Homo sapiens: one gene and its partners. The protein of the gene in region 2 interacts with the protein of the main gene of each other region in a pairwise test. Each region holds a gene or a part of one and is shown on either strand. Other genes may lie near its edges. The genes, in order: FAM120A, BMP2K, SIRT2, ZER1, DLD, DYNLT3 and SH2D4A.

Region 1 (3,500 bases), on a different chromosome or scaffold from region 2:
GAGAGGAAACATGGCTGCGAGCTGCATGAGGAGCAGTCACAGAGCAGAGTAGCACACTGCAGGAGGCTGGTGGGCAGACAGAGGAGGCAGAGAGGCATGCAGCTGCACCAGGGAAAGGAGAGGTGACCTGCAGACAGAGGGGCTGACCCGTCGCCAAATCTGCAAGTCACCTTTCCGCACAGTTCCCTTGCTGGCCTCCCTAACTATCCCATGTAACTGAGTTGGAAAAACATTGTTGATCAAGAGAGAAAGGCTTGCCCATCCTCAATGCAACTCCAAAATCACATCTGAACAGTTAATCCTGTTATGTGACTTGATGGGCAGATTTAGATCTGCAGTCCCAAAATGTGGGATTAGGACAAAGATACAGGTCACTGACTTCCAATTACAGCACCATCACAAGACATTGCTTCCTATGCTAAATGTTAAGACCCTTTTCTCTTTTGCAAGCCTAATACAAATGCAAAGAGAAGCACTGGGAATCTACAGTAAACTGCCTTGTTTATATGCCCAACATTAGATCTTTGTTTAAAAATGTTTCTGCGAAACAAACTGTGACAGACTTTTTATGTCAGGAATTCTGTGACCATTAGCATTTTCTATACAAGCATGATAATCTTTACCAAAAGATGGCTGCTTGGGAAAGAAACGCCACTATTAGCAGCTCATCCTATGAACACGAGGCGATGGTCAGGTTACCCAGGTGCACAGAAAGGTTCTGTTCTAGGTGGACACTCAGTGGTCTACCCTGAAAGGAGAGACTGGCCACAGCAGAGCCGCTGCTGAGACCTGAGAGCAGAGAGTCTCAGGAGGAGTGGTCAATGAGGGTCAGAGCGGGGACCCAGAAGAAAGGCCGTTCTGCTGGAGGAGGGGCTCATGAGGACAGTAGAGGAAGGAAGGCGCCAGACGATGGAGCGAAGGAAGTGCTGGCAGGCAGAAGCTCTGGGAAGGGGTGGGTATAATTACCGCCCTGGGACTTGCTAGTCCTGCTGCTGTCACTGCCTGAGAAGGCTCCGCAGTGTCCCGATGCTGCCGCCACACGGAAGGCACGGTAAGGGCCTGTTGCTACCGTTTCCCCATAGGGGCCTCCAAAGCCACAGACGCCTGTGGGACCCGGGGTAGAGAGAGAGGGGAGAAGTGTAAGGGACAGGACTCAGGGCCCTGCTGGGTATTCAGGCAGAGTGGCCCCTGCCTCCTCCAGCTGCCATGGAGGGGTCTCCTGGCCCCTCTTGTCACCTCACTGTCCTGTGCCCATGGTCCCTGGGGACCAGTATTGTAAGGCCACCCTCCCTGCAGTGGGTCATTCAACAGGGCACTAGCATGGGGCTCAGGAAGGGCCCTGGGAGATGAGTCCTGGAAGATGGCTCTCTCTGACCTGGGTGGGTTTATTTTCCCTTACACATGAGAAACAAATATATCTTAAAATGTGAGCAGAGTTTTCAGCTTGATTGACAGATTTTACGGTGCAGCTTTTGCATCTGCATCAGCAGGTCCCTCTCCCCTATCTCCAGGATTAAACTTGCTCCTCACGGACTTGAAGAACTGCTGCTGCAGGATCTCCAAGACCAACAGTGACAAGGTCAACACAGCAGATGGGCTTGCCTATAAGGGCTGCACTTTCTTTACAGGAATCTGGCATCTGTTACCCACAGGAATACGTCCCAATCAACTCACCTGCAAAGCCTCTGCCCCTGCCCTGAGAGGGTGGGACAGGCCCAAAGTGCCGGGGGTACGCAGAGGCAGGGTAGAAGGGCAGGGCAGGTGGCGGCGGGAAAGGGAGCGTGTGGCTCTGCCTGGAGAAGCTGAGCCCCTCGAGGACGCTCTGGCGCATCTTCTCTACCTTGGCAGCCTGATCAGCCTGGAAGACAAGGACCAGCATGTGAAAATGCCATCCACAGGGGGTTTTAATTGAATTTAAATGAGCACTAAAGAAATAAGATCTATCAACTATACAGTTGGTTCCCTTTATTCATGAATTCTATGTCTGCAAATTCTCCTACTTGCTAACGTTTATTTGTAACCACAAAAATCAATACTTATGGCAGTTTTCTGGTCGTCTGCAGACTTGTGCAGAACACGGCAAAGATTTTTGTTGCCTGATGCACTGACCCCAGCTGAGGTCAAACAAGACAACGCTTGCCTTCTTGTTTCAGCTCATACTGAAAACAAGAATCCTTTTCACAGTTTATTAAGTGCCACGTGTTTCACATTTTTGTCCTTTTTTGTTGGTAATTTCACTGTTTAAAATGGTCCCTGGCTGGGTGCAACAGCTCACGCCTGTAATCCCAGCACTTTGGGAGGCCAAGGTGGGTGGATTGCTTGAGGTCAGGAGTTCAAGACCAGCCTGACCAACATAGCAAAACACCGTCTCTACTAAAAATACAAAAATTAGCTGGGCATGGTGGCAGGCACCTGTAATTCCAGCTACTAGGGAGGCTAAAGCAGGAGAATCACTTGAACCTGGGAGGTGGAGGTTACAGTGAGCTGAGACCGCACCACTGCACTCCAGCCTGGGCGACAAGAGCGAAACTCCATCTCAAAAAAAAAAAAAAAAAAACCAAAACAAACAAACAAATAAAATGGTCTCCAAGTGTAGTGCTGAAGTGCTGTCTGGTGTTCCTAAATGCATAAGGAGGCTGTGATGTGCCTTACAGAGAATATACGTGTTACAGAAGCTACTGGCTGTGAGTTCAATAATAATGAATCAACAATCCATATTATATAAGGTGTCTTTAACGAAAATGCACATGAAATAAGATTATATACTGATTGGTTAACAAAAATATGTGACCAGAGCCTTGAAGGAACCCAGCACCTTGTATTGCCCCTAGGAGCAATGGTCAGTATTCACTAATTTGGCGTTCAAGGTGAATTTTAGAACATTACTACCACAAATAATGAGAAACAATGTTATATCAGGAGCTTGGCTCATCCTGGGTACTGAAGTGATATTTAGTGACACTCAGTACCAGGCCCAACCTAAAACAGAATCTTGAAACACAGGATGATAAATATGGTATAAAAGATGACAGATTTAACCAGTGAGCTTTATTTCATTGCAGTTAAAGGCAGCCACCCGGCCCCGCAGCATACCTGACCATCACAGAGGTCAATGAGTGGGGTCTTTTCCCGGCTGGCTTTGAGGAGTTTGGATTGGAAGAGCTTCCCATCAAAATACATCCAAGGACAACAGTGTTCCCAGGGGATTGGCTGTCCGCATGCATCATTTGCAAACAAGGCCATGTCTACTCCACTCATGAAGAGAGCTGATAGCTGAATTCCTCGGGGATCTAGGTTCTCAATCTTTAAATTGAAAAGAGTAATTTCTATGGAATAAGAGTACTACAGTATTAAATTCTTTCAAAGTCTTAGTAAAACTCTCCAAAGTTAACAGAATATTCCTCAACAAAACAGCACCACTAAGTAGTCCTACCATTACCTTATATTGACCTAACACTGGCCTCATTTGAACAGAAATACTTATGTGATTTAACACATTT
Region 2 (2,258 bases):
TGCCAAGCTTAGTCCATCAATCCAATAAATAGGTTTTCTCTTTAATGTGTCATAGCCTCTTTTCTGATATAATTGAGGATTACAATGTTATTTAAGCAAATAACCAGTATTAATTCAGCCAAAGATGTTATCAGTTTTAAAGATTTTTAAAAATTTATAATGTGGAAGCTGTAAAATAAGTTATTCAGAAGGCACTACACAATATTGTTTTTGCCTTACTGTCATCACTCGAGTATCAGTAATTATGACTCACTGAAAAAGTCGTGCTATTAAGTGTTCTTGTGGCAAAAACTCTTAAGTCAAATGGGTTTTCTTACCTAAATTGTAAACTCTGAGCTCCTTAAGAATAGGGATCTAATCTTAGCAACTTTTCTATTCCACTAGCTGCTACATAATAGGTGCTTAATGTTTGTGGTGTGAATGAAATAACTGAATTTGAATAGAAGTTTACATCCAAAAGTCATAATAAGACAAATAATGAAAAACTCCAAAGTCACTGATTATAAAGAATATGCAATCCATTTGGGATTTATTGCATTTAAAGAAAACAGATTAAAACAGGTATGATAAATACAGTAAGAAAATAACTTTAAATTTCAAACAAAACAGTGAATCAGGGACAGAATTCAGTCAAAAAGAATAAGCAGTGTAAAGGCAATAAAGTAATAAAATCAGTTAGTGCTTAATTAGATATGGCAGGGGAAAAGGGGTGGGAGGGGGAGACTGAGTCTATCTCATAATTGTTTCCCAGCTATATTTGAGGACTGAAGTTACTTTAGCAAGTATGTTTTGTAACAAGTAGAAATACAATAAAGATGTAAATTTGCTTTATTTAAAGGTTAAAGTTATTTGCTTAGTGGTACATAAAAGGCTTCAGAAAATTCAAGTTTAACAAAAAATGGAAGTGTAATCAAAGAAAGTGCACTTAAAGCTGTTTGCCAGCAATTAAAAAGTAGCTTCTATACAGCTTCTATTAGATGACTTTTCAATCACAAAAAGAGCATAGTCATAAAAACAATTCTTTCAAAAGTAGCAGTATAAATTTTAAAATAAAACAAAAATAACCCCAAATCATGACCCTTTGCATTATCATCTACCTTATTCTCTTAGTAGCTTTTGTAAACCCTCACTAGGAGTGAATGTTCTCTTAGATATGATTGTGGTTGCAATTCCATTTTTTAAAAATTCACATTAACTCCACAGTAGAGAGATGTGACATGCATGTGTGTACATATTTTTATCTTAATATATAAAACACCACTGAGTATAAAAGTTCTCAAATAAACTATTCATCATTTATGGTATTCTCACAGTAGATATGTCATCTCATTCTCACAGTAGACTGTCAACTCAATAATTGGACCTAAAATAACAAGTTTGCTAAAAAGAAAAAAAAATGAGAAAAAAGTTTACTGCACATTCTAAATATATTAAAAACAAATGTACCCAAGCGCCTCAAAACTAGTGATATTAATACACTTGTACCTTCTAACAGTGCTTACGTGAAGTACCAAAACCTAAAATAAACCAAGCAGAGTAGCTGACTTGTAAGAAAACTGCTCTGCCTGGTGAACTTCAGCATAGAAGAGTGGGCTCCACCTTAGATTTTCCACCAGCAAGAGGACAACAGTCTATCACTCTTAAACAATAAACAGGGTAAGACTGAAAGTTGTGTCTATTTGCAAATCCGGATAATGTCGTAACTATACCCAACACGTACACAGGGATTGGGGTAAGGGAAAATAATTACACTCCTGAATAAATGTTCTAGTCAGTTAAATTTTCATCCGGCCTACAACCTTTCCTCCTCCACCTATTATACTTACCATGCAATTTTTGTGTCTTAGCAGATACATTCTTCAATGCCATAAAAAGCTGATCTTTTTAATACTAACATTTTACTGACGTGATATTAAAATAAGCAAATGGTCCACTTTTTAAAGGATTATTCAAAATCAACAAGCATTATTAAAGCTGTTAAGAAACAACTTTGGCCTCAAGATTTTTGCTAGCTTCATAATAATTTACTTCTCTTAGTGATGTTCAAGTATAACAGGTTTAGTTATAACTACATCCTAAAGAAGCACAGGGGACACCCAAATAATATTAGGGAAAAAAAACCCCAAATATATATATATATATATATTTGCTTAGTGGTACATATATAATAACCTTTCTTCCTTCCTTAAACCAGAATTGAACCATCCCATAATAGAGCCAAACTTTTATTGAGTGCTGTGTGCCAGGTACTGTGTTAA
Region 3 (3,500 bases), on a different chromosome or scaffold from region 2:
CTCCTAGGCTAGTGGAACCTGCATTTGCAGCTGCCAGGAGTTACCTTTACCCCAAAACAAGAAAAGCAGCATCAGAGAGAGTTATGATTTTTAACAAAGTGGAAGCACCTGGACCCAGCCGTGCTTCAAGCTGGATTAGAGCCAACACACTCCTTTTTGGCTTAAGCCAGTTCCAGCTGGGTTTCTTGCTACTTATAAAGAAAAGGTTTCAATAAATGGTTCAAGTGGCTGGGGATGGGAGGTCACTTGGGGCCAGGAGCCAGGCAAAGTGGCCCAATCCTGACAGGGGACTCACAGCGTTCGCTCTGCATGTACCGGGCCACCCCTTCCAAGGTCAGCTCGTCCAGCAGACGCTCCTTCTGGCTGCCCAGGCTGAGCGTCTGGGAGAATAAGTTCCGCAGGAAGTCCACTGACCGGAAAGAAGAGAGACAGCGGCAGGACGGGCATTCAGCCAGGGGCATGGATGTCTCCGGCACCCTGGCCCCAGCCCTGGGGTTCCCGGCCTCCCCACATCTAAAGGCACAAGGCCCGGCCCAGCCAGCGGCCTCCAGGAGCCTGCTCTGGCACTGGTACCCAACCCACTGCTACATACTTTGGATGTCACTCCTGATGGAGTTGAGGAGGTATCACCCACACCCCTGCCCTGAAATCCCCCCGCCCCCCAGAACCCTGCTCCCTGTCCCTCCAGGAAGATACTCACTGTCTGCTTCTCCACCAGCGGCTCCTCCCTCAGAGTCTGAATCTGAGTCCTGGAAGGGGTGGGGTGGAGTGGCCAGGCCCGAGAGGTGGGATTAGGGAGGGAGGAGAGGGGGTGATACCAGGTTTGGGGAAAAGGCTGTGGCAGGAAGGTGGCCTGAGGAAGTGCGGGGTGGTGGAGAGACTGCACTGGGGCTAGCTCCAGGGCTCTGGGACAGGCTGCCGGGGTTGGAGTCCTGGCCATGCCCGTCCCCAGGAGCAAGACCTCATGTGAGTGGCTTTGCTTTGCTTTTCTTTTTTGAGACAGTGTCTCGCTCTGTTGCCCAGGCTGGAGTGCACTGGTGCAGTCACAGCTTGCTGCAGCCTCAACCTCCCAAGCTCAAGGGATCCTCCCACCTCAGCCTCCCAAGTAGCTGGGACCACAGGCACGTGCCACCATGCCAGGCTCATTTTTTGTTTGTTTGTTTGTTTGCTTTGTAGAGACGAGGTCTTCCTCTGTTGCCCAGGGTGGTCTTGAACTCCTGGGCTCAAGCAAGTCTCCTGCCTCGGCCTCCCAAAGTGCTGGGATTACAGGCGTGAGCCACTGTGCCTGGTCGTGACTTTGATTTTCTAAGTCTTGGTGTCCCTCACCTTGGAAAGGGAGCTTGGGTGCTGGGCGCAGCACCAGGGGCGGGGGAAGTGCTTGGTAAGCGCTGGCTGTTGCTGTTATTATCACAGCCTGGGGTCTTCCCTTCGTTCCCGGGTCCCCTGGAGCGTGGGCCTGCTGTCCCTTCCCAGCAGCCCTGGGGGCCTCTGAATAATGTCCCAAGTCACTCTGGGAATGATTCCAATGCAAAGCCTTGGCCCTCACTTCAAGGACCTATGTGCCCCCTGCTCGAGGCCTCAGACACTCTGCCCACCTCTCCAGCAACCTCTGTCTCCTTCCTCGAAGCCTCCCCTCAGCCCAGCTCCAGACTGGCAGGTCTCTGGGACTCTGTCCAGGGCCTCTCTGCTTTCTCTTTCCACTTTCCTGGGGTTACCTGTCTCATCCATGCCAATGACCTCTGCCTCGTCACTCATGATACCATCTCTCTGCCCTCAGATCCGGGGTTCCCTGGCTTCCTGGACACCTTGCCCTAGGTGCCCCCCAGCCTCTCACTCCTACTATGTCCCAAATGGACCCTGGCATCTCCTCCAAGCCCATCCTCCTCCCAGGCCTCATCTCAATGCGATCGTACTGTCCCCCCCATCAGCCAGATGTTTCCTGCCCCCGCCTCCCTCCTCGCCCTCCTGCCACAGCCCTTCAGCTCCAGAGCATGTACGCTGAGCCTCCTAAGGGTCTGTCCACCAACCCCCTTTCCCTCCCCGGCGCTCCACCTGGTCCAGCCTGTCCTCTCCTCCGGGGGTCCTGCCCCAGCCTCCTCCCCCAGCCTCCCAGCCTCAGTCTCCACCTCCCATCCACCCTGCTGCCCTGCATGTGAGGCTGTCTGGGTCAGCTCGCCCCTCTCCACTTCAAAGGCCCTTCTCTCTGGCTTCTGCAGTCTTCCCAGACATCTATGGAATTGCCAGGATGTCCACAAGGGCAGGGACTTTGTCTGGGTGCCCAGCACTGAGAACAGGGTCTGGCTCCTGGCAGGAGCTCCAGGAGCTCCTCTACCTTGGAATGAATGCCTGCTTCAGGCTGGACCACGGCTGGGCCCTGCAATGGATTTCACCAAAATGCAGTTCTGACCAAGCCACCACCTCAGACAACTCCCTTCCCCGGATACTCACTGCTCTGCGTCCAAGTCTTTTTGAATAAGACCCTCCCTTCCGAACATACGACAATTTAAAAAATTGCTTTTTAAGACTGTGCAACTCCGGCTGGGCGTGGTGGCTCATGCCTGTAATCCCACCACTTTGGGAGGCTGAGGCAGGAAGGTTGCTTGATGCCAGGAGTTCAAGACCAGCCTGGGCAACACAGTGAGACTCTGTCTCTATTTAAAAAGAGAGAGAAAGGCTGAGCACGGTGGCTCACGCCTGTAATCCCAACACTTTGGGAGGCTGAGGTGGGTGGATCACGAGGTCAGGAGATCGAGACCATCCTGGCCAACATGATGAAACCCCGTGTCTAATAAAAATACAAAAAATTAGCCAGGCATGGTGGCACGTGTCTGTAGTCCCAGCTATTCAGGAGGCTGAGGCAGGAGAATCGCTTGAACCTGGGAGGTGGAGGTTGCAGTCAGCGAGATCACCCCACTGCACTCCAGCCTGGGTGACAGAGCGAGACTCCGTCTCAAAAAAAAAGAGAGAGAGAAAGAGAGAGTGAGAATGAGAGAGAGAGAGAGACAGAGAGAAAGAGAGATTGGACAACCTCTGCAAAAACCTTGATTATACTCATGTATACTTCAACAACATATAACTTGCGGCACTCACCTTGTAATTGCCCAAGCCCACCCTTATAAAGATAACCACTGTTAGCTAAGCTTAATGGAAATTACTCCAGTTTTCTCTGCATAAAACTAATATTTTTTACAGAAATAGGTCATAGTACAATACAACATCTTGAGTTTTCGGCAGAACAATATGCTACAGACCCACCTAATTTAAAAAATAATTTTTTAAAAAAGAGACGGCATCTTGCTATGTTGCCCAGGCTGGTCTCAAAACTCCTGGGCTCAAGTGATCCCCCTGCCTCCCAAAGTGCTGGGATTACAGGTGTGAGCCACCGTGCCCGGCCTCACCTCGTTTTTCAGAGCAGCTACATAGTATTGGATTGTATGGATGAACCATAGTTCATTTAACCCATCCACTGACAGCCATTTGGACTGTTTCCAGTTTTGCCC
Region 4 (3,500 bases), on a different chromosome or scaffold from region 2:
GTGCGTGAGGCGGCACAGAGAGTTCTCAAAGAGCCCGAGGAACTGCAGCGGCCTCTTCAGAGCCCGGAAAGGTATGATGCTGCTCTTGGAAGGCTCAATGCTGGGGAAAGAGGGTGCCGGTGTCAGTGGCTTGGGACCCAGGCCTGAGCTGGGCCTCCCCACTGGGGGTGGTGAGGCATTTCCTTGCTTTCTCTTCTAGGCCCTCCAACCTCATCCCCTACTCCTTTTGTTTTTAATGGTAGGGGACATAAGCACCACCTCCTGATGGAAGCATGGCAAAGCCACATAGTAGGGGAACACATAGGATGGGCAATGCAGCCACCTTTAGAAACCACCTGCCATTCTAGTAAGGACATGGCACCTTTAGGTCTCACCAACAATCACAAAGGGACAAGCTCAACTGAACACCATTAAAGCAGGCTGGGGCCAGGGCTTATGGGTGGCCAGTTACAGCTGGTAGGGTTTGGTCAAACTTCTCAACCAACCAATCCAAGAACCGACCTATGTCCAGCAATACTCCATAGGTGGCAGACACTGCCAGCCTTGCCTCTTCCCCCCATGGCACTGTGCTCTGGTCAGGCTGAGTGTTGGGTAGTTCCCCTGTCGCTCCTCATGCTCTCACCTACTGGCCTTTGCAGGTGCTGTTCCCTCTGCTAGAACACGCTTCCTCTGGCAGAGGCAGAATGAGCTTTCAGGACAGCCAGGATGCGTCCCTCCTCCTCCTTCCTTCCTGATCCTCAGGCCACACCGGGGCCCTGGATTGCCCCTACCATAGCCCTTGTAATGACTTGATTGTCCCCACCAGCTCACACAGCCTCCAAGAGGGCAGGACCTGATTTGTTTCTTTATCTCTAGCACCCAGCACAGCACTTGGCAGAGGGGTACTTGGCAAATACTTTCTTTTTTTTTTTTTTTGAGACAAAGTCCCACTTTGTTGCCTAGGCTGGAGTGCAGTGGCGCGATCTCAGCTCACTGCAGGCTCCGCCTCCCGGCTTCAATTCTCATACCTTAGCCTCCCAAGTAGCTGGGACTACAGGTGTCTGCCACCATGTCCAGCTAAATTTTGTATTTTTAGTAGAAATGGGGTTTCACCATGTTGGCCAGGCTGGTCTCTAACTCCTGGCCTCAAGTGATCCGCCCATCTTGGCTTCCCAAAGTGCTGGGATTACAGGCGTGAGCCACTGCGCCAGCCTAAATGCCTGTTGAATGACACCCTACCAGTAGCCATGGAGGCTGGGGCCCCACCTGGTCTGCCCCGCTTCCTCTTCCATCTTGGAGATGCTGCAGTTCTCTAGGATCATGTGGCCAGAGATGTCCAGGGACATTAGGTTCCCCAGCTTCTGCACAAAGAGGCTCAGCACCTCCCGAGTCAGCTTGAACTTGTAGTAGCTGGAGAGGCGGTCTCGGGAGATGTCCAGGTGTCTGAAGATTGGGGTAGGGGGTGCAGGTTAGGAGCTGGGTACAGGGTGGGGCTGCCTTGCAGATCCCAGCTCCTTTAGTCTGTAGCAGGGGAGGGCCCATTCCTGCCACAACTTCCCCAGGGCATTCTGGGAAGAAACCCCAAACAGCCCCAATCCAGCTGAAACACTGGGTTTAAGGAATGGGACTGTGTCTTCATCCCCACCCTCTGCCTAGCCAAGCGCTCCTGAACCCTGAGGGCGTGACAACACCCACCTCTACTCCTCCCCACCTGCCCCCCAAACCCCACCCTGGTGAGCTCTGGGCCAGGAGCTCACCGCAGCTTGTGCAGCTGCACGATGACCCGGATGTGGTCGTCGGACAGGTCCATGTTGTAGAGGACGAGGGACACCAGGCTGTCTTTCCACTGGGTGAGGAAGGCGGCGTCGCTCGTCTGAATGCCTGAGAGGTCCAAGGCAGCCAGGGAGTTAAGCGGCCGCAGCAGGGACTCCACAGGGACCCAATCAATCATGCGGCCCAAGTTGAGGAAGCGGAGGCGGCTGAAGCCCTCGAAGGTGAAATCCTTAACCAGCACCTGGCAGGTGGGGTTGACGAGGTACTCATCTTCACAGCCCCCTGGGTTCTCCTCCTCATAGAAAATGTTTGTACAGCCGAAGAGGCTCAAGGACACCAGGGTGTGGCTGAAGCTCCTCAGTGTCTGCAGGCTCTTGGCGGACAGCTTCTCGCAGTTAGTCAGGTACAGCTCCACCAGGTCCTGGGAGTGGGCACAGCTCCATCATCATCACCACCCTTGCCCCTTCCCCCGGCCCCAGGCCTTGCCCTGGGCTACAGGTGGGTTGGAAAGGGGGATGTGCACAGTCACGGTGCACACTGGCTGGGCTGGGGATGGCTGGGCTGGAGGCGAGCAGCCTGGCCCCTGCTTGGTGTGGGCCCTCCTGGCGCTGTGGCGGGGCAGGTCTCACCTGCTTGCGGATGGCCTCCAGGTCCTGGTCCTGCACCAGGTCCTCACGGAGGTGGATCCGCGTGAGGCGGGTGCTGCGGGGGTCCGAAAAGAGGCTGAAGAAGCTCTCGTGTGGCTCGAAGTTACAGGCAGCGTTCACCAGCTCCACATACCTGGGAGAGAAAAAAGCCTGGCTCAGGAGAGGGCCACAGGGACTCTCATCCTCGCTTCAAAGCCAAGCCCTCCTCCCCCTGAAGCTTTCTTGGATCACCCCAAGTAGCAACCTCCTTCTCCTAAGAGTATCTGGTCAGATCCTGACTAAACTACCAGTAAGATTAAGGGTGCCCAGGAACCAGGAATCTAAAGGCAGCTCTCTGGGAGACCTTCTAGGTGATGCAGGCGCCATCTCTCCCAGTGCACATGCCTGTCACACAGCCTCCACGCACGCACACTGCAGGGGCAGCAGCCCCACTGGCATGGCCACTCTCGTCACCTTCTTTAAGCCCCTCCTGCGACCCTTTTAAACAGGCAAACTAAGCCAAGTAGTTCAGAGTTCCCAGCTGGGTACAGGACAAGCCCTTAATGAAGCCCTGTTGAGACATCAGCTCATGCAAGAATCCTGGTCTGCTGGGAAATGCTTTGGATTCAAACGCTTTAGACTCTAAATCTTGGCTTGGCTGCTTCCTACCTGGGCAACTTCACACAAGTAAATGAACTTTCCCAGACCTCAGTTTCTTCATCTGTAAAGTGGATATAACTATGGCCTGCAAAGTGTCCAACCTAAAGCCTGACCCACGGTAAATGCTCAGGACGTTATTACAGGTCCACCTCTGTCCTCAGGCCCACACAGGCTTCTAGTTTCCTATGCAGCTGTCTAATAATTTCCCTTCTGGGAATCTTTTTCTTTTTTTTTTTTTGGTAGAGACAAGGTCTCGCTATGTCACCCAGGCTGATCTTGAATTTCTGGTCTCAAGTGATCCTCCTGTCTTGGCTTCCCAAAATGCTGGAATTACACGTGTGAGCCACCATGCCTGGCCACCATCTGGGCCTGTAGATTGAACTCCCAGCATTCAGTGACTGCATAGCATGCTTCTAGGAGCCCCTAGGAGTGGGGAGGCCCTCGGAGGGCCATTCAGATTTT
Region 5 (3,500 bases), on a different chromosome or scaffold from region 2:
CTCCTGAACCCGGGAGGTGGAAGTTGCAGTGAACCAAGATCGCACCATTGCACCCCAGCTTGCATGATAGAGTGAGACCAAGTTTCAAAAAAAAAAAAAAAAAAAAAAGTCAGTCTACAATAATACCTACCACTTGGGTAGCTTAAAATGTGCCAGTTAGTGAGCCAGTCACGTGTACTGTCTTATGTAAGCCTCATTACATTTCTATGACATAGTTTAATACTACCATTAACAGAGGAAGAAAAGGTTGAAAACAACTAAATAATTTGCATAAGGCTACACAACTAGTAAGTAATCTAGCCAGGATTCAAACAAGGTCCTCTAGATTCTGAAATGTGTGCTCCTATATACCATTATGTTCTATTGCCTTCCAAAACACTCAGATGATCCCATAATCTCCAGGACAATCAAGAACTTCAACTAAAATGACAAGAATATGCTTTACAGAATGAAATCAAATATTTATGACTCATCAGTACCTTCAATAACCTTAAAACACAGTGAGAAAAAAGAGGCACATGTCAAAATAAAGGTAAAATCAGATTTTTGGCCAGGCGCGGTGGCTCATGCCTGTAATTCCAACACTTTGGGAGGCCGAGGTGGGTGGATCCCCTGAGGTCAGGAGTTCGAGACCAGCATGGCCAACATGGTGAAACCCCATCTCTACTAAAAATACAAAAATTAGCCGGGCTGGTGGCAGGCACCTGTAATCCCAGCTACTCGGGAGGCTGAGGCAGGAGAATCACTTGAACCCGGGAGGTGGAGTTGCAGTGAGCCAAGATCACGCCACTGCACTCCAGCCTAGGGGACAAGAGCGAGACTTTGTCTCAAAAAAAAAAACAAACAAAAACAAAACCAGATTTTTAAAAAGAAAAAACGAACAGGAAAAGAGATGTCATAAGGCAATAATCATTAATTACCAAATTTACTGAATGTAAGAACTACTTGATAAGGTTTATTTGTTGACATTTTGTTGAGGGGTAAGGGAAGTTGTTTTTACATTGTCAATGGCCTTAATATCCAGTCTTTTTCAGTAACCTCCTCCCATAGTTAACACTCTATACTTGTTATCACCCAAAACTGTTCAGCCTCTGAAATCAATACTCTACTTTCTAGTCATAACCTCCTGGTCCCTAAAGAAGAAATATAGTAAAATAAGAAATGATCTGAAGTAAAACAGACCTGGGTTCCAAACTCTAACCCCGTTAAGTTCTTGGGCAAATTACTCAATCTCTCTGGGCTTTGATACAACATGGGGGTAATAGTAAGGATGACACCTGCAGCCTAGGGTTGTGAGGATCAGAGAGTACGCATGTTAAGATCCTAAGGAGGTGCTAGGTGCATACTAGCAACTCAGTGTCACTCCCCTTCTCAGATCCACCTCCAAACTTCAGTCCAGCAGCCTCTAGCCTCATTCACATCCTCCATTTTAGCCTACCCAGTGCTACCGCAAAGCTAAAACCCAACTCAGATGTTATTCTCTCTGTTGTTACGCTCTGTTGGTTCTCCAGTGTCTTGTTAGATAAAGCCCATGTTCCTAAGTACAGCATCCAAATTCCTTCAGTAACTATTTCTCCAGCCTCATCTCCTACCACGTTCTGTTTACTCACCAATACCATGCAGTTTAAGCTTCAGTAACGGTGAATTACTACTCTTAGCCTACATGCATAGAATTATGCTGGTCTACCTATGTACGATCTGTTCCATCTACCTAGAAATAAACACTAACAGCAGGCATTTCACATTACAAACACTACTTTAGGCTCTTGGAGGGGTGTGTCTGCACATGCTGTGTCTGTGTGTGTGTATATATAAATGACATAGCCCTATTTCTTACAGTCTAAATAAAAAAAAGAATTACAGTAAAAGGTCCAACCTGTAACGAGAGTTACTCTCAACCTTTTTAGCTATCAACATAATTCCTTAGGAAAGAATTATGTGACCATTCCCAATCCATATATAGATGTCATTACTCCCTATGCTTAAGTCTATGGACCCCTGTCACAATTATATGTTGGATGTTTGTCTCCCTCAACTGAATTGTAAGCTCTATAAAAGCTGGGTCTTGTCCGTCTTGCTCACTGCGGTACTCCAGTAGTTAGCCCAATGACTAACACATAGTAGATATTAGTATTTGTCGAAATAATAAAAGAATGAATGAATGTAGTGAATGTGAGTGATATAAGTGCTGTAAGTTTAAGTGTTACAAGTTTGATTAAGTGCTGTCATGAAATAAAACGTCACATCAACAGTAACACACACAACTTTGCAAATTCTGATGAACCTGGTTCATAAGGCTATTCAGACATCTCTCAGATGTTGTAACCAAGACTATATCATAATAAGATTTGAACTCCTCAGGAGAGTCAATCAATACTCATGTAAGGAAGAAAACTCAATAAAACATTAACAGTGTAGGCTCTGAAGTCAAAAGGATTCTCCCAGCTCTGTCATTTCCTAGTTAAAAAACCTAACTCTTCCATCTATAAAATGGGGAGAACAGCAGCACACAGGTAGTAGAAAGGCCATGAGGATTAAATCTGTGCCTGAGACAGAGTGAAGCCCTCAATGCATCAGTTAATATTATTGCTGTTGTAGCTGGTTACTTACTTTGTACAAGACACCATACTGGATGCTTTGCCACAGAGCAGTAATTAAAACAGACCAGGCCCCAGTGTTCATTCATTCAATAAATATGTACTGATTACCTACTGTATCACTTTAGATACTAAACAAAACAGTCACACACAGTCCCTGTCCTGATGAAGTTTGCATTCCTGAGGAAAAGACAGTAAGCATGTACCTCAGATAAAATACAAGTATGTGTGTAAAATGCTTGTTACTGCATCCACTCAAAGCTTTTACACACTTTACACACATGGGTACTAAGTGATTTATGATTTACTCAATGTCAAGGGATCACCAAACTGATTATGGAACACTCAGCCTCATTCCACTAAAATCTAAGTTCTGGCTCAGGGTCTGCCTGGCAAATAGAAGGCACTGAATAATCTCTGCTGAGTGATGCCAAAGGTATAGAGTTAGCCATGAAAAATATCCTTTAGAAATGAAAATCTAACATTTCTCCTGTTATATGAGTTGAGAAGAATGAGATTCCTATTTAACAAGAGACAAAGTGTATAAGAGGTCCAACTTTTCCCTTCATCATCATATTAGCATTTTTTTAAAAGGATTTCTTGACCTGTTCAAAGCTAGAATAAATCACTCACTCACTGTTAGTCATGGGTTACTAGAATCCTCCCCCTACCCTTCCTCTAGAAATAAAATATCCAAAATGATAATGGTTGGATAACAGTTGAGGATACAGGATTAAATTACTTCACAGAATGCAGGGAGACTGATAGTCACAGTTTGCCCAGATAATGATTTCTATAACTGAAGCTTTAAGACATCCAATGTTACTTATAATCCATATGGGTGAATTCAGTAAATGTCAAAACAGTACATTGCAAATAATCAATATCCTTGGTACTGACAGG
Region 6 (3,118 bases), on a different chromosome or scaffold from region 2:
TTAATTATGTTGTAATGGTAAATACTGGATTTGGGCTGCTATTTTAATGGTATTTATTCTGCATAATATGCATAATATATCTATGTGGTCCCATATTCATTTATCCTATTTAGAATTGCTTTCTTTTTTCTTTTTTTTTTTTTTTGAGACGGCATCTTGTTTTGTTGCCCAGGTTGGAGTGCAGTGGCACGATCTCGGCTCACTGCGATCTCCGCCTCCCGGGTTCAAGCAATTCTCCTGCCTCAGCCTCCTGAGTAGCTGGGATTAGAGATGTGTGCCACCACGCCTGGCTAATTTTTGTATTTTTAAGAGAGATGCGGTCTCACCGTGTTGGCCAAGCTTGTCTCAAACTCCTGACCTCAAATGATCCACCTGCCTCCCAAAGTGCTGGGATTACACAGGTGTGAGCCACCACCCCCAGCATTTCTTCTATTTAGAATTTCTAAGAGCAAGCAGAATGTCATTTCTCTAACTATTAAATGATTATCCAGAAGCAAAAGTACAGCACAGGAAGATAATATTTATTATATTTTAACTAGAAACAGAGCAGATAGCAAGTTCACCAGGTAAAAATTTTTTTTCTTAAATTATGCTTAAACAACAATAATAAAAAACAAGTCTGCATGTATATTTTGGTCACTATTATGATCTTCCAGGGCACAAAAGCCAGCAGCATAAAGAAACATGAATAATGACTGAGAATTTTTGATGTGCCAAAAACAAAGATCACTGCATTAAACTCCTTTATTTTGTTAATATTATTCTTAAACATTGAACAATTATTAATTATTGTTATTTGGCAAAATATCAAACATGCACATAGTATTCCTACAAGAATATTGCCTTAATATTGTCAATATTAACGCTAAGCTTATTCCTCTCCAAAATTCAATGAGTTATGGTTCCGCTCTCTATATGTATTAGTGTTAGTGGTAATATGCAAAACTGATTTTGTTTTCAGGGTTAAGTAGCAGATTGACTTCGCATTTGGTGGCCAGCTGTGTACCCTAATTTTTCATCTATTTTCTTAATAAATTTAATTACATTTCATAAGCCCTGAGATAACGTGCTAAGGATTGTATACTTTTAATCTATACTTTATTCCACTCAATTTGAACCCCACATAATAAGTCTTTTAAGTTATTTACAGATGGTTGTAACTAAAGCAATGACAAAATTTACTACTTGTATAGGTAAGACTGATAATAAGGCCTTTAACTAAGAGTTGCATATTTTATATGCACTTTTAACTTGCTAGGAGCAACTCTTAAAATTACATCTATAATTCTGTCAGAAAGCAATAAGTGCTTTTCATTTTGCTTACTTCCATATGTGTAACCAGATTCACTTTTTTCCTCCCTTGTAAAACAACTACTTTCTTTTCCTTCCCCAAATATTAATACGTCTTCCAACTGAACAATTGCTAAAAGGAACTTAGCATTTGCACAGCACATTGACAACTATGGTGCTTAGCAGAGACATATGCCCATAATAGGCATCTGATAAATGTTTGTTCCACATGGAATGAGTGAATTGTAAGGCAGCTGTTTGAGTCATACACTGTTCATCATATACTGCAACTAATTTTATTTAACTAGGAAATTCAGTTTACCAGATTTAATTTACCCTCAAGTGTAAATCCAAAAATTTGAAATTAAAAAAAATTGATTTACTAATCCTCAGAAAAAGTAAACAAGTTAATCATAGTTGTTACTATACTATTAGTTGATAGAAAATTAAAAAAATTATTACTTTCCACTAAATATTAAGTACAACTGAGGGGAAGAAAGTTTAAAAAAACTTAAAAATGTTAGCTAATTCTCATCATTTTCTCCACATTTATCCTTGCAGCTTTTTTGTTCATATATTTATTCCTGTTAACTTCTCTAGCTGAAAGAGAATTTTATTATCTGAATGGAGTTCCCCATCACCTTAGGTACAAAATATTAGTGAAAAGCTGGTGTAAATATAAGATTGTATTTTCATGTCATGCCATATTTCTAAATTTATTTTTTGCTAGCATTAAATTTTTCCTATTTAAACGATGCTGTATAGAATATGAGCTAATCTGCCAATTACTATGATATTGCTTGCTTATAATATTCAGTTTTTGTTGATAGCTTTAAAGCATATTGCACGCTTTTCATCTAGCACACTAGTAAACAACTATTACTCTTTTTGGAAAGGATACACTGACAAATTCTTAAGTTAATGGCTTTAGCCCAACATTTTTAGTCAGTTAAAGAACAATAGCAATGGCAAAAACGTTGACAATACAGTTCATGGTCCGGTTCTCCCATCTTACGGTACAGGTTCCTGAAACACAAAAAAAGGATTTTGAAATACCAGCAAAACATAAAAATTATCAGAGAATATATATATATATATACACACACACACACACACACACACATATACACACACACACACACACACACACACACACACACACACATATATATATATATATATACACATACATTTTTCACATGTTTTAATATCTTATTTCCTTCAACCTGTTAAGTTTTCACATTTCATATCGGTCTGAAGGTATACTTGTTACTAGGTACAAAGCAATACTGTTGATAGTCTTTTCAGAATTTAATCAGAATTAAATAAGTACTTGGTTAAAAAGTGCAGTTTGACTTTGCTAAAAGTTGGATTTTGTGTAAATCAGCTTAAGATCTCTTACCATCAGATGTGGTATCCCAAAAACAGGAGCTGGCTGTGTGAAAGCCATATGCGCTCTTCTGGACCACTGCACAGGTCACTGCAAATAAAGTCACAGAATGAGGGCACTTACAGACAAAGGAAAAGAGAACCAAGGTCAAAGTGTGTGAGTTCAGAGCTCTACAAGCCGAAAACAAGACAAAAAACAAACAAACAAACAAAAAACAGAAAACAAAGCGTTCAGCAAATAGATTGAAAAAAAAATAAAAGACTCTCATCTTTATCTACCATCATGATTTTGACCCCACTGGATTCAGTTGGTTTTCTGACCATTGTCATTACCATTGGTGATTGTATTGCAGGAAAAATATCAGTCAAATTCTGTGCTTTGTACCATGGGCAGAATTCAGACACAGAAATGCAGGAAATACTCCACTTTATAAACAGT
Region 7 (3,500 bases), on a different chromosome or scaffold from region 2:
AAACAGAGGCATCCTCCTTTGGGGACACTTGTGAGGCTCTGATGAAGGAATTGGTGGGGAGGCATTCTAAGTGCTTCCATCAACAGGCTGGACAAGAGGCTTTCTGAACGGGCCCAGCGGCTTTCTATATGGGCCCAGCGTGCCCTTGTTTTCTGGTACTGTTAGCTGAACACATTTTCACAGCTCACACCACACATCTGGGTCTCCACACCTTCCACCCTGGGCATCTGGATTAGCATCCAGCCTCGGCCCCTCCGCCCCTCCACTCCAAGCCATCACCTGGATTTCCCCATGCCTGGCTGACAGTCCTGAGTCCTGGTCCAACATGCTTCCAGCAAAACACTGCTGAAAAGGAAATGATGGTCTTCTGAATAGAGAAAGTAAACCATTACAGATTTTGATAAAAGTAAAATTCTCTCAGAGACGCAGGACAAGTTCCTTACGTTTTCTAGCTTTCTTGAATAAATACGGTGGTCAGGGCCGTATATAGATGGGTAATAGCAGATCTCATCTGCTATTACTCTGTGAAACTCGTTAATTTTTCTTCTTTTCCACTGTGCATGTACATAATTACATGCAGATTAAAGGAGTAGATTTATTAAATATAGCTCTGTTAGACATTTGAGTAACATCAACCAAGTACTACATCTGTTATTATTAATATTTTTTCTTAGGTAGAATCATGTCATGTTCCAAATTTCTTGCTTATCCTCAGCAACAATATCCATGATGATCATAGCTTGATGTTTTCACTATATGTTTCCTAACCGTTTAAAAATAAACACGTATGCATGTGGAAGGATGAACAAAGCTCCACTTTGAAGCTTTTTCTGTTTAAGCTTAGAAATTGCTAGCAGCACATGTATCTATCTTGGGCTGGCAAACAGCTTCAATCAAAGGATGGCAAATTTTAACAGTCCTTTCAAACATCAAAGCTGTCCTTTGGATTTTCAAATGTTGGCAAACAAAAGGAGCTTAGCTCTAGGCAGGAAAACAGTGTAAGGAAAAAAAAATGAAAACAGTAAATGCACAGAAGTTTAGTTACATCTGCAGTGAAGCACAATTTATGAATGATGATTACTTGAACTGTGATTTATGACTGCCCAGAGCGATCAGAAACAAGTTTCACAATATTAATGTTTATACTTTACGTTGTGGTGACATAATAGCAAGGAAGTCTTTACATTTCTGTGGGAAAGCACAAAATTAAAAAGCTTGTCACTTGTGATAGAGAGGTGGGCACAGGCAGCCCTTTCTGGCCATTTCAGTTTGTTTTATTGCTTAGCTAACCAAGGCTTTTATTAGTCCACCAAACTGTAAATTCAGTCGTCTTGTGAGCACTCAGAAGGTTGTGTCCAAATAAGCAAAGTACTTTTCAGGTCTAAGTGATTTGGTTTGTTCATTTCTCTTTCGTTTAAAATGATTTCCGTTGAATGCTCTTAATGCCAGAAAACAGTACACTAAAAAATGGTTAAGGTGGTAAATTTTGTTATGTGGAATTTTACCCTAAGTTTTAAAAACCTAATTCTCCTTTTAAAGGAATATTTACATTTTGAAAGTATTTCTCCCTTCTCAAAAGATGCTTTTGAAAAATATTTTTCTGTTTTTTTTTTTTTTTGAAACAAAAAAATACATATTCTGGCAGGGTGTGGTGGCTCATGCCTGTAATCACAGCACTTTGGGAGGCTGAGGCAGTGGATCACTTGAGGTCAGAAGTTCGAGACCAGCCTGGCCAACATGGTGAAACTCCATCTCTTCAAAAAATACAAAAATTACCCAAGTGTGATGGCACTTGCCTGTAATCCCAGCTACTCAGGAGGCTGAGGCAGGAGAATCGCTTGAACCTGGGAGGCAGAGGTTACAGTGAGCCGAGATTATACCACTGTACTCCAGCCTGGGCGAAGGAGTGAGGCTCCATCTTAAAAAAATAATAATGATATATATTTCTTTTGAAACACTTAAAATCATGTAGTAAGTACCACATTTTGGGACACATGACTCGGGGGAGAGATTCAGCTGAGATTGCTCTGGGAATGTGCATTTCTTCTGTGGAGTCTGTCAGCTACTGTAAAGTAGGTTGATGCTAGTTCTATGTAATAGTGTGTTTACATCCTTCAGGGAGTCAGTTTGAAGCAGCTAAGTACTGTGTCTGAGGAAAAGGAATATTTTTTCTTACTATATGTTATACACTGTGCCAGGGACTTCTTAAGTTATCTAATCCTCAATATAACCCTAAGAAATATTTTTTTCTCATCTTTCTTATGGGGAAACAGCCCAAGAGAGGTTCATTTGTTGCTCCTGGAGTTACACACTAGCTAGCAATGGTCAGTCTTACTTCAGGTCTTACTGACTCCAAAGTCCACACTTGATCCTTCCTAGTGGGCCAGAGAGTTAGATAGAAGTCAGCTGTGCCGGGTACCCCGTCCTTCAGGAAACTGCTGGATTTGCTCACCAAGGTTCTTTTTTTGTTTTGTTTTGTTTTTGTTTTTTTTTGTTTTGTTTTTAAACAGAAGAAAGAATCTATGAAGAAAAAACAAGATGAAGAAATAAATCAAATAGAAGAAGAGAGAACGAAGCAGATTTGTAAGAGCTGGAAAGAAGACTCGGAATGGCAGGCATCTCGTGAGTACCCAGAGGTCTCCATAGCACCTTCCAGGCTCTCAGCTGATTCTCTCCCTTAATAATGTGATCAATCTAGAAAGCGCTTAATGTGGGTTGTTGAGAGATATGTTCACAGTAAGTTACCACTCAAATGTTATTACTAACTTATTACTCAAATGCTTACAGGCTACTTTTGAACAGCAGACTCGTTCTCCATTTATTTCTGTATCACCAAAATTATGATGTAATTTATCAAATAGCATGATATATAGCTATGGAAAATAGGTTTTGGAGAGTGTTTAATGATCTTAGACTGTTTATATCTCATTAGCTTGGGGAAGAAAAAACACCATGAAATAGAATGAAAAGCTTCGCTATTTAGAAATGTCTAAGTATCTGAAGGAAAAGAACTGGAAGGTTATAATAACATGTAAACATTAGTTTTCTTGGAAAGGTGAGATTCAAGATTATTTATTTGAATGTTTTTCTTGTAATTTAATATTGTGTTTTGGATTTTTTTTCCCCTAAATTTTTGATAGTGAATACATTTTAACTTTGTAATCAGAAGCACACAGGAATACCAGGCTGGATGTGTTAGCATCCCGCTCCTGCCTGTGACCCAGCCTTGACTCCTATTTGAGTGAGCAGAATGGGTGAGAAAACTCATAGGAGAAGAATAAGCCCATGCAACTGAAGGCAGAGGAGAGGATGCTCCAGAATGCTAGAAGAATTAGGTTTGTGAAAGAATTAGTGTTTCCATCTGACTCAGAGAAATCTGAACTGCTAGATCAACCTGAGGTGGCTTGAGGAAGACAGCAGGTATGGCTATATTTGCAGGATGTTGAGATCCTACATTGATCTGCAGTCCCATTACAACCAATGCCATTTAAATGACAACT

Evidence for each region.
Region 1: the proteins of BMP2K (region 2) and FAM120A interact in a two-hybrid assay, tested with the Homo sapiens proteins (one large-scale study listed by IntAct).
Region 3: the proteins of BMP2K (region 2) and SIRT2 interact in a two-hybrid assay, tested with the Homo sapiens proteins (one large-scale study listed by IntAct).
Region 4: the proteins of BMP2K (region 2) and ZER1 interact in a two-hybrid assay, tested with the Homo sapiens proteins (one large-scale study listed by IntAct).
Region 5: the proteins of BMP2K (region 2) and DLD interact in a two-hybrid assay, tested with the Homo sapiens proteins (one large-scale study listed by IntAct).
Region 6: the proteins of BMP2K (region 2) and DYNLT3 interact in a two-hybrid assay, tested with the Homo sapiens proteins (one large-scale study listed by IntAct).
Region 7: the proteins of BMP2K (region 2) and SH2D4A interact in a two-hybrid assay, tested with the Homo sapiens proteins (one large-scale study listed by IntAct).

What each region holds. Positions count from the first base shown.
Region 1 is NC_000009.12:93,556,185-93,559,684, reverse strand, and holds part of FAM120A (constitutive coactivator of PPAR-gamma-like protein 1), read right to left. Parts: exon of another isoform or gene 3,327-3,500; intron 3,304-3,326; coding exon 3,094-3,303; intron 1,859-3,093; coding exon 1,675-1,858; intron 1,105-1,674; coding exon 967-1,104; intron 1-966. UniProt on the Homo sapiens protein: Component of the oxidative stress-induced survival signaling. May regulate the activation of SRC family protein kinases. May act as a scaffolding protein enabling SRC family protein kinases to phosphorylate and activate PI3-kinase.
Region 2 is NC_000004.12:78,914,608-78,916,865, reverse strand, and holds the end of BMP2K (BMP-2-inducible protein kinase), read right to left. Parts: 3' UTR 501-2,258; downstream 1-500. UniProt on the Homo sapiens protein: May be involved in osteoblast differentiation.
Region 3 is NC_000019.10:38,893,119-38,896,618, forward strand, and holds part of SIRT2 (NAD-dependent protein deacetylase sirtuin-2), read right to left. Parts: intron 1,038-3,500; exon of another isoform or gene 750-1,037; coding exon 701-749; intron 410-700; coding exon 296-409; intron 1-295. UniProt on the Homo sapiens protein: NAD-dependent protein deacetylase, which deacetylates internal lysines on histone and alpha-tubulin as well as many other proteins such as key transcription factors.
Region 4 is NC_000009.12:128,751,428-128,754,927, forward strand, and holds part of ZER1 (protein zer-1 homolog), read right to left. Parts: intron 2,533-3,500; coding exon 2,382-2,532; intron 2,174-2,381; coding exon 1,737-2,173; intron 1,423-1,736; coding exon 1,246-1,422; intron 101-1,245; coding exon 1-100. UniProt on the Homo sapiens protein: Serves as substrate adapter subunit in the E3 ubiquitin ligase complex ZYG11B-CUL2-Elongin BC. Acts to target substrates bearing N-terminal degrons for proteasomal degradation with the first four residues of substrates being the key recognition elements.
Region 5 is NC_000007.14:107,894,183-107,897,682, reverse strand, and holds part of DLD (dihydrolipoyl dehydrogenase, mitochondrial isoform 1 precursor), read right to left. Parts: intron 1-3,500. UniProt on the Homo sapiens protein: Lipoamide dehydrogenase is a component of the glycine cleavage system as well as an E3 component of three alpha-ketoacid dehydrogenase complexes (pyruvate-, alpha-ketoglutarate-, and branched-chain amino acid-dehydrogenase complex).
Region 6 is NC_000023.11:37,838,336-37,841,453, forward strand, and holds the end of DYNLT3 (dynein light chain Tctex-type 3), read right to left. Parts: intron 2,771-3,118; coding exon 2,693-2,770; intron 2,317-2,692; coding exon 2,240-2,316; 3' UTR 501-2,239; downstream 1-500. UniProt on the Homo sapiens protein: Acts as one of several non-catalytic accessory components of the cytoplasmic dynein 1 complex that are thought to be involved in linking dynein to cargos and to adapter proteins that regulate dynein function.
Region 7 is NC_000008.11:19,358,693-19,362,192, forward strand, and holds part of SH2D4A (SH2 domain-containing protein 4A), read left to right. Parts: intron 1-2,510; coding exon 2,511-2,622; intron 2,623-3,500. UniProt on the Homo sapiens protein: Inhibits estrogen-induced cell proliferation by competing with PLCG for binding to ESR1, blocking the effect of estrogen on PLCG and repressing estrogen-induced proliferation. May play a role in T-cell development and function.